Linked DNA regions of Homo sapiens. The protein of the gene in region 1 purifies or fractionates together with the protein of each later gene. This does not show direct contact. Each region holds a gene or a part of one and is shown in the gene's direction. Other genes may lie near its edges.

What was found. Proteins that work in one complex are often made in the same cells at the same time.
Region 2: the proteins of TAS2R8 (region 1) and NEIL1 purify together in Homo sapiens (affinity purification with mass spectrometry; one large-scale study listed by BioGRID and IntAct). This does not show direct contact.
Region 3: the proteins of TAS2R8 (region 1) and SERPINB8 purify together in Homo sapiens (affinity purification with mass spectrometry; one large-scale study listed by BioGRID and IntAct). This does not show direct contact.

The regions. Positions count from the first base shown.
Region 1 is NC_000012.12:10,805,551-10,808,533, reverse strand, and holds TAS2R8 (taste receptor type 2 member 8), read left to right. Parts: upstream 1-1,247; 5' UTR 1,248-1,553; coding exon 1,554-2,483; downstream 2,484-2,983. UniProt on the Homo sapiens protein: Receptor that may play a role in the perception of bitterness and is gustducin-linked. May play a role in sensing the chemical composition of the gastrointestinal content.
Region 2 is NC_000015.10:75,350,039-75,353,538, forward strand, and holds part of NEIL1 (endonuclease 8-like 1), read left to right. Parts: intron 1-1,262; coding exon of another isoform or gene 1,263-1,338; intron 1,339-1,993; coding exon of another isoform or gene 1,994-2,072; coding exon 2,073-2,192; intron 2,193-2,285; coding exon 2,286-2,349; intron 2,350-2,563; coding exon 2,564-2,663; coding exon of another isoform or gene 2,664-2,704; exon of another isoform or gene 2,705-2,944; intron 2,945-3,500. UniProt on the Homo sapiens protein: Involved in base excision repair of DNA damaged by oxidation or by mutagenic agents. Acts as a DNA glycosylase that recognizes and removes damaged bases.
Region 3 is NC_000018.10:63,983,581-63,987,080, forward strand, and holds part of SERPINB8 (serpin B8), read left to right. Parts: coding exon 1-141; intron 142-1,512; coding exon 1,513-1,665; intron 1,666-2,677; coding exon of another isoform or gene 2,678-2,686; exon of another isoform or gene 2,687-3,070; intron 3,071-3,293; coding exon 3,294-3,500. UniProt on the Homo sapiens protein: Has an important role in epithelial desmosome-mediated cell-cell adhesion.

The DNA.
Region 1 (2,983 bases):
AGTTATGTATAGCAGAACCACCTTGAGAAAGAAGGTTGAGGGTCCCAGTAGTCAGCGTGTTCATGAGTACTCTAGCTGGTGATGGCAATTTTAGAAGTCATTTCCCAAAGATTCCCTGGAATGTTCTCTCTAGCCTTCTAACTCAGAAATCTCTGACATATTTTTTTCCCTCTGCATCATTTTCTTTTCTATTTTGTTTCCAGCAGTAGTTTATAGATAACTAGGTTTCTTTAAGTTATTAAGTTTATGCTTTCCTGTTACACATTACACACATGTAAGAAATAGAAAAAATCCTGCATGTGTTGTATACATTGTAGAACTATTTAAATACAAGAAGCCCTAGGGTATTGTGATTTGTATTACCTACATTCAAATGTATTTTGGGCTAAGTTGTACTTTCCCTTACCCCAAAACAAATAAATCTAATTTAATAGTAGAATTAGTCCTATTCCTTGGAAATACTGGTATGTAAAAAAAAAAAATTATTATTATTATTTTGAGACAGAGTCTCACTGTATCGCCCAGGTTGGAGTGCAGTGGCACGATCTTGGCTCACTGCAACCTCTGCCTCCCGGTTCAAATGATCCCCCTGCCTCAGTCTCCCAAGTAGTTACTTTTTTATGTGTTTGCCCTATCTAGAAATATGACTATAATATGCACTGTGAGATTACAAATCTTATAAAAGGAGTTGATTGGAACTAGAATAATGTAAAATTTAAATTTTCTTAATTTTAGATTACAATGCTTATTATACAAGAGACAGTGATTCAGGAAATGAATTGTCTTCAAGGGTATTTGTCACATTAAAAAAAAACTAAAGATAACAAATCTTTACCTGGCATATTTCACTTCTGAGGAACAATTGAAAAGAAAGCAAATTCTTAGTAAATATTATCATGTGCCTGCCTAAAAAAAAGTCATTTCTAATTAGATTTGTATTATATCCTTCCCTAATTAGCCGTTTAAATGAAGACAAGAATTATTATCCTCTGACTAAATGTTAAATATCTACAATCTAATTGTACTAATTACTTCCAAAGTGAAAATTTCTTTGCATCTGGGAGAACTGATTTGTGGCTTATTTATAACTTACATGATGAAAATGAAGTTTTATTTACACAGTTGGGTTTTTATTAAACATTTATCTCTTTTTTTATGACTCCCTATTCAAAACTCAATTTGAAGATCCAAATATAGAGCTACAGCAAGAAGCCTGTTGCAAATTCATGATATAAAATCTCTTTGAATTTGCATGGGAGCAATTTCAGCCAAACATTTCAGGTATCACTCACTAAAGGATAATAATTATAATTTTTCCAGGCTATAAATAACTAGTCAAGCTGCTCATTAGTTGGTTTCATCTTCAGGAGTGTAGAGACAATCCTATTTCAGAGGAGAGCTGAACACTTCCGGAAGAATAACAACGTCGAAATAACAGCAGATGAAAACATTATTGCATGATTCGAAGAATTGATCTATCATGCTTTAACAGGTCACCTGTAAATTAGCTCATCTACAGTGATATTTGAAATCAGATTGTTCTCTCTACAAACATGTTCAGTCCTGCAGATAACATCTTTATAATCCTAATAACTGGAGAATTCATACTAGGAATATTGGGGAATGGATACATTGCACTAGTCAACTGGATTGACTGGATTAAGAAGAAAAAGATTTCCACAGTTGACTACATCCTTACCAATTTAGTTATCGCCAGAATTTGTTTGATCAGTGTAATGGTTGTAAATGGCATTGTAATAGTACTGAACCCAGATGTTTATACAAAAAATAAACAACAGATAGTCATTTTTACCTTCTGGACATTTGCCAACTACTTAAATATGTGGATTACCACCTGCCTTAATGTCTTCTATTTTCTGAAGATAGCCAGTTCCTCTCATCCACTTTTTCTCTGGCTGAAGTGGAAAATTGATATGGTGGTGCACTGGATCCTGCTGGGATGCTTTGCCATTTCCTTGTTGGTCAGCCTTATAGCAGCAATAGTACTGAGTTGTGATTATAGGTTTCATGCAATTGCCAAACATAAAAGAAACATTACTGAAATGTTCCATGTGAGTAAAATACCATACTTTGAACCCTTGACTCTCTTTAACCTGTTTGCAATTGTCCCATTTATTGTGTCACTGATATCATTTTTCCTTTTAGTAAGATCTTTATGGAGACATACCAAGCAAATAAAACTCTATGCTACCGGCAGTAGAGACCCCAGCACAGAAGTTCATGTGAGAGCCATTAAAACTATGACTTCATTTATCTTCTTTTTTTTCCTATACTATATTTCTTCTATTTTGATGACCTTTAGCTATCTTATGACAAAATACAAGTTAGCTGTGGAGTTTGGAGAGATTGCAGCAATTCTCTACCCCTTGGGTCACTCACTTATTTTAATTGTTTTAAATAATAAACTGAGGCAGACATTTGTCAGAATGCTGACATGTAGAAAAATTGCCTGCATGATATGAAATCTTAGCTGTATAAATGGAATTTAAAACCAAATCTTCTCTAACAAAAAATATAGTTTTCTTAATAGTCTATTCTCATTTTTCCCCAGTTATCTCATTTATTTTGGATGCATATCTTTAAATATTATTAGGACCTAGTAGCAAACTACTGAATACATCTTTTCTATCCCTTTACAACTCAGAAATGCTCATCTTTACACTCCCTTTCCTCGAAGAATTTCAGAGCTCATGCTTCTCTTCTTGTCTCCTCAACGCAAGTGTTAGGCCTGTATTGCCTAGTTAAAGTCTTTTTAGATTTTACTTTGGCTCATGGTAAAGTGGACCTGAGCTACAGTAACTGGTTTCTCATTTTTCTTTGTCATACATTTTTATTGCCGCTCCTTAATTGTGCTCCTTTCATGGCTCTGCTGAGTCACCCCCATTTGGCTTATTGATTAGGAACTCAGATGTTCTCTGGTCTGTCTTTGGTTTTCCCGAATGATGATTTCCATGGTCTCCTA
Region 2 (3,500 bases), on another chromosome or scaffold:
GACTATCTCATGACATGGCTTCCGCCTTGGGCTTTGTGGTCTCCCACATCCGGCCTGCCCAGTATTCTGTGTCCTGTGGTCTCCTCTGCGCCACTTCCCTGCCTGCAGTAGGGTGTAACAGCCCCACCTGGGATGTGATGCAGGTCACCTCACATGGCACAGTGTTGGCCACTTCCTTTCCTCTGAAGAGGAAACGTGTATGAGTCTCTGCTTCATGCCAGGCCTTGTTCTAGGGGCTCGGGGTACAGCAGTGAACAAGATGAATGTGGTCCCTGCTCCCACAGAACTGATGTTCACATAGGATAGGGGAATGAGAAATGGACCCATGCCTTAGGAAAACCCAACAGGTGAAGGAGGTAGAGGATGACTTGGCCGAGGGTGGGGGTACATTAGCAATGGCCACTCTAGGGAGGTTTGAGCTGAGGCCTGACTGATGAGAAGGAGCCAGCCAGAGGAAGGCATTGGAACTGGCAAGAGTCACAAATGCAGAGGCCTGGAGTAGGGTTGGCAAGTTCTCCCTTTCTGGGGGATGCTGTGCGTCCGTTGACCCTTAGGAGACTTGGATACCTGTGGGATGGGTTGGAGATGTCTCTGGTGCCTTAGAAGAAAGTTGACTCCTGGCCTTCCCCTGTGTGAACTCCAAGCACATCCCCAGGGAAACATCTGTCTTTGGTCCTGGATTCCTCCCACCTCAGCCTTCCTGGGGAGTCACGCCACAAGTTAACTCTGCCAGCTGGCTCTGAAGTTTCTCTCAAACCACGAGCATTTGGGCTGTTTTCTTAGTCCCCCAGCTGGGGCGTGTGGCAATTGGCTTACCTCAGGGATCAGGGCACCTCCCAGGCTACCCTTGTACCTTCACCCCAGAACTCTGTCTTCTGACCCACTCATCACACCCATTAGTCAGTCTTGCCATGACCCTTTTCCGCAAAGAAACAAGATGCACATCCTCTTCACGGTGAGGAGGGGAGACCCATGACCCTTGGAGGTGGGGTGGGGGCTGCTAGGGCCCTCACTGGTACTCCACATATCTCCTGCACAGAGCCAGACAATGTCCAGGATCTTGAGAAGAATGGACCCTACCAATGGCAAACCCACATATGGTCTCTAACCCACCACAAATGCTATACAGGGAGCTCCAGACTGCAAACACACTTGAGGTCCTGTGGCCACACTGTTCTCATGTCCTGAGGAGTCTGAGGTGATAAACACACAACCTCATATACAACCTCATGTTGCTTTTTTTTTTTTTTTTTTTGAGACAGGGTCTCGCTCTGTTGCCTAGGCTAGAGTACAGTGGCGCCATCACAGCTCATTGCAGCCTTAACCTCCAGGGCTCAGGTGATTCTCTCACCTCAACCTCCTGATTAACTGGAACCACAGGAGTGCATCACTAAGCCCCTGGCTACTTCTTAAATTTTTGGTAGAGATGGGGTCTTCCTTGTTGCCCAGGCTGGTCTCCTGGGCTGAAGTGATCCTCCTGCTTCAGCTTCCCAGAATGCTGGGATTACAGGTGTGAGCCACCACACCAGCCTCAAGTTACTTTAGATCAGTATTTTTCACCTTTCACAATGAATTTATTTTTAATTTTGTTTTTATTTTTTGAGATGGAGTCTCGCTCTGTGGCCCAGGCTGGAGTGCAATGCTGCGATCTCAGCTCACTGCAACCTCCACCTCCCAGGTTCCAGAGATTCTGCTGCTTCAGGCCTCCCAAGTAGCTGGGATTACAGGCACCCACCATCATGCCTGGCTAATTTTGAATTTTTAGTAGAGACAGGGTTTCACCATGTTGGCCAGGCTGGTCTCGACCTCCTGACCTCAAGTGATCTGCCCGCCTCGGCCTCCCAAAGTGCTGAGATTACAGGCATGAGCCACTGCACCTGGCCGTCCTTTCACAATGAATTTAAATCCCTTGATGTTCCCATTTAACAGATAGGAAAACGGGGGCAGGGAGAAGAGGAACTGTAACTCCCAGTTTCCTTCCCCTTGCACCCAGAAACAGGTTCTCTGAGCCCCTCTCCCCATCCCATGGAGGGTGGGGATGGGTCTTACGCACCCAGACCGTGTTCCTCCAGGGAGAATGTGCTACGAAACCTAGCGGATAAGGCCTTTGACCGGCCCATCTGCGAGGCCCTCCTGGACCAGAGGTTCTTCAATGGCATTGGCAACTATCTGCGGGCAGAGATCCTGTACCGGTCAGCAAGCAGGCATGGGCATGGGGACTGCGGTGGGCCAGGTGTGCCCACATTCCCCACTGCCTAGCATGGCTTGCCTTGCCCCCACTACAGGCTGAAGATCCCCCCCTTTGAGAAGGCCCGCTCGGTCCTGGAGGCCCTGCAGCAGCACAGGCCGGTAAGCCCAGAGAGGGATGGAGCACACGTGCTGGCACACTGGTGTCCACATGGGCCGGCAAGGAGATGGGTGGGGTCAGGTGTCCCCAGCTTAGCTCAACAACAGGGGTGGGGAGGGGATGAACTGCCCAAAGTCTGACCAAGCTCAGAGAGAAGGTCAGCTGCCTTTACATGGCCCTGCTGACAGACAGGTCCTGCCCCTGCCCCTTCCTCAGAGCCCGGAGCTGACCCTGAGCCAGAAGATAAGGACCAAGCTGCAGAATCCAGACCTGCTGGAGCTATGTCACTCAGTGCCCAAGGAAGTGGTCCAGTTGGGTGAGGCCAAAGATGGCAGCAACCTCTGCTTCAGCAAATGATTGTGTAACCCTGGGGCACTTGTCCCTCTCTGGACCTGATTCACCGATTTGGAAGTTTGTAGCCCTAGCTGATACTCAATGGACTAGGCCTCCTCACTTGTCAATAGTGTTTCCAGGCTGGGCGCAGTGGCTCATGCCTGTAATCCCAGCACTTCGGGAGGCCGAGTGGGGTGGCTCACCTGAGGTCAGGAGTTCGAGACCATCCTGGCCAACATGGTGAAACCCCATCTCTACTAAAAATGCAAAAAATTAGCCAGGTGTGGTGGTGGGCACCTGTAATCTCAGCTACTCGGGAGGATGAGGCAGGAAAATCGCTTAAACCCAGGAGGTGGAGGTTGCAGTTGAGCTGAGATCGTGCCATTGCACTCCAGCCTGGGCAACAAGAGCAAAACTCCATCTCAAAAAAAAAAAAAACAAAAAAACAGTGTTTCCTCCAAGCTGCCCATGAGACAGGCAGGACAAGGATTCTTTTATATATTTATACACACACACACACACACACACACACGCACGTTTATATATATTTTTGGTAGAGATAGGATCTTGCCATGTTGCCTGGACTAGCCTCAAACTGGGCTCAAGTGATCCTCCCACATCTGCCTCTAAGTAGCTAGGACTACAGGCTCACACCACCACACCGGGCTAATTGTTAAAAATTTTTTTTGTAGAGACAGGGTCTCCCTATGTTGCCCAGGCTGGTATTGAACTCCTGGCCCCTAGGGATTCTCCCATCTAAGCTTCCCAAAGTGTCGGGATTACAGGTGTGGCCACTGCACAGGGCCAGGACAAGGATTCT
Region 3 (3,500 bases), on another chromosome or scaffold:
AAGATTTCAGAGGTACTGGATGCTGGGACAGTCGATCCCCTGACAAAGCTGGTCCTTGTGAATGCCATTTATTTCAAGGGAAAGTGGAATGAGCAATTTGACAGAAAGTACACAAGGGGAATGCTCTTTAAAACCAACGAGGTAGGGAAAGATTTTTCAGATATACTGCTACTTTCTTAAAGTAATATTACAGGAAATATTCTCTTGGAAAAATGAATAATTTATTTGACATGATCTTGATTTTAATCTATTTCTGAATTATATTATATTATTTTATTTTCTTTGAGACAGGGTCTCTTTTTGTCACCCAGGCTGGAGTGCAGTGGTGTAATCTCAGCTCACTGCAGCCTCGACCTCCCAGGCTCAAATGATTCCCCAACCTTAGCTTCCCAAGTAGCTGTGACTACAGGTGCACACCACCAGGCCTGGCTAATTTTTGTATTTTTTGTAGAGATAAGGTTTTGTCATATTGCCCAGGTTGGTCTCAAACTCCTGGCCTCAAGTGATACACCTGCCTTATCCTCCCAAAGTTCTGGAATTACAGGCAGGAGCCACTGTGCCTGGCTTCTTTTCTGAATGAATTTAATGCCTCCTGTGTATCTTTAATGGCGGAAGGAAGAGAGAAACAAAAATAATTTTGGTATTGATAGTTTTGTTTTTCCATCTTTGATCAAATCTACCTTCCATCTCTGGTCATATGATTTGGATTGGAGGAGAATTTCTTCTAAGCCTTGGAATTATGTTTGCATGATGCTATTACTCTCTGTATTTAGTTAGATACCTTTTTGCAATATCAGTGGCAACTATGCCTATTTATTGCCTTAAAAGTCAAAGTTATACAATCCTGAGCACAAGAAAAAAAAGTTAGCAGATGTAAAGCCTAACTTTACCTTCCCTTTTGAATATTAAAATGGCTGGTATCAATAGTTGTTAGCTTGGGATTTGACATCCATCAAATATGATACTCTCATATTGCACAAAGATATGAAAGTTAAAAATATATTTGATGCAGGCTTTAAAAACAGCAGACCTTACACATCTCTTCAAGGTCCCCTTCCTAAGAAAGCCAAGGCCATAAAACCAATTCTACAACAAGGCAACTTTCCAGAGTTTGGACCGTACATCTTTTCTAACCAGATCCTTCAGCCCAAGGGCCTGAATATTTATCTTAACTTCGATAAAGAATTTTTAGTTGGAAGCTTCCATGAGAAAGCTTCTCTGTGAATGTTCTCAAAAAAGCAAACACAGCTTCTTCCAAGGATAATGTCAATTTTTGTGTCCTTCTCCATTTACCAAACTGTTTTTTTTTTCTCACCTGGTAATATTTGATCTGCTGGAACAATAGCTTGTTCTATTCAATACTAAGATGTACTAATGAAGATTTTATATCTATCAGCATAAATGTGCAGAAACAGTAATTATACACACCTAGAGTTTCTGTGAGTTAGATATATCCTATTTTTAGTAAATTATACCCACTTTTCAGTAATCGAACTTTAATTTTTCCGTTAGGAAAAAAAGACAGTGCAGATGATGTTTAAGGAAGCTAAGTTTAAAATGGGGTATGCGGATGAGGTACACACCCAGGTCCTGGAGCTGCCCTATGTGGAAGAGGAGCTGAGCATGGTCATTCTGCTTCCCGATGACAACACGGACCTCGCCGTGGTAAGCTCCAGGCAATGAGCCTGAGTATCTGTGGAGTCCAGCTGAGCTCATTTCTTTATGTTCATCTACCAATTGGCATTTGAGGAGTTTCCAGTTGGGGTTATTACAGGCAGTGCTGGGTGAACATCATTGTGTGTCTTTTGATGAACATGTTCATGCATTTCTGTTGAGTGTATACATATATGAGTGGACAAGTTTTGATGAAGCTAAGAAGAGAGAGTTCTAAATATATTATTATTTGGAATATTATTCTTTATTCTGCATGGAAGGTCTATTTGAAAGCCCAATGATTATTGCACAAAAGTCCTGGAAGAAGGGTAGGGATCAATCTTGGCAGTGATTCTCAAACACTAATGCACATATATGATTCTAGTGATCTTGTTAAAGTGCAGATTTTGATTCAATGGAGTGTGGCCTGAGATGTTGCATTTGTAACAAGATTCCAAGTGATACAGATGCTTGGAACCACACTATGAATAGCAAAAGTCTAAAGTACAGGTGGGAAATTTACCTTATACAAGAGGAGAGAAAAGTCTTACTGTGACAGAAAAGGAACAGAGTCCAGGAAGGGAAGTGGTAAACTTGCAAGGTAGGAGGTGCAAGACTAATAGTGCACTTGTAAACCAGCTCTGGGAGGTGGGAGAAGCCTTCATTTATAAAGTTTGCTGATTCTCATGACATGGTAAATACTCCCACCATGGCCGACTTTAGTCTACTGAGGGTTTAACAATTGATAGGGGTCAGCTCTGGCACACCAATGCACAGGATGTTGAGGGTGGGCTGCTTGATTTTCCTGGCTTCCCTTTGGAATCAGAAAGCTACTGCCCTAAGTCAGGGATGACATCTGTTGTGGCCACTTATGAGAAAATTAGGAGAGTCTAGAAATAGAGTCAAAATCAAAACAATGCTCGTTGGAGAGGAGTACCCACCTGGGCTCCAGTTGTTAAAGGGAAGGGGAGATGCTAGTGGAAGGCCTTTCTCCCTTTTTTCTTTCTACCTTATTGATAAATAGAAAGAGTGATGGATCTTGAAGAATTTGAAGCTAACTCCAGGACAGGCAGAGGACAAACAAGGATGCTGATGAAGTCTTCTTGCATTCCCCATTTCTCGTCTCATGCTCCCTTCTCATGCCTCCCTTCATCTTCAGATGAAACACAATTCCCTCTCTTTTACTCTGAGTTGCCCTCTGATTTAACCCTGAATAGTCCCCTCATTAGACTCAGAAGCAGAGTTCTGAGCCATGCTCTTTGTCTTTTGTCAAACAATCTCTCCCACTCACAGTAGTATGTATTGCATGAAGATTAATGTAATGAATTGGTTAGAATTTTCTAAACTGTTAAAAAATGTTTTTAACATTTGAAAGGAGTTAGGTACAAATTGTTTTTATTAAAAATTTCTGCCTGTCTCAGGTGTTTACTAGCTCTTTTACACTTGTCTCCATAAAACTGTGAAAAGATGAAAATTTGGGAGAAAATCTTGGTGTGTTTATAAAAGAAAATATCTGTAGATTTTCTTGGACCAGAACTCACCATCTAATTGCATGTCATTGGGGGAGGGGTAATAAATGGGTGTGTGGGTATCAGGCTATTGTCATCTAAATTTTAAGGTTTGAGTCTTTCTTATCCTAGGTGGAAAAAGCACTTACATATGAGAAATTCAAAGCCTGGACAAATTCAGAAAAGTTGACAAAAAGTAAGGTTCAAGTTTTCCTTCCCAGATTAAAGCTGGAGGAGAGTTATGACTTGGAGCCTTTCCTTCGAAGATTAGGAATGATCGATGCTTTTGACGAAGCCAAGGCAGACTTTTCTGGAATGTCAACTGAGAAGAATGTGCCT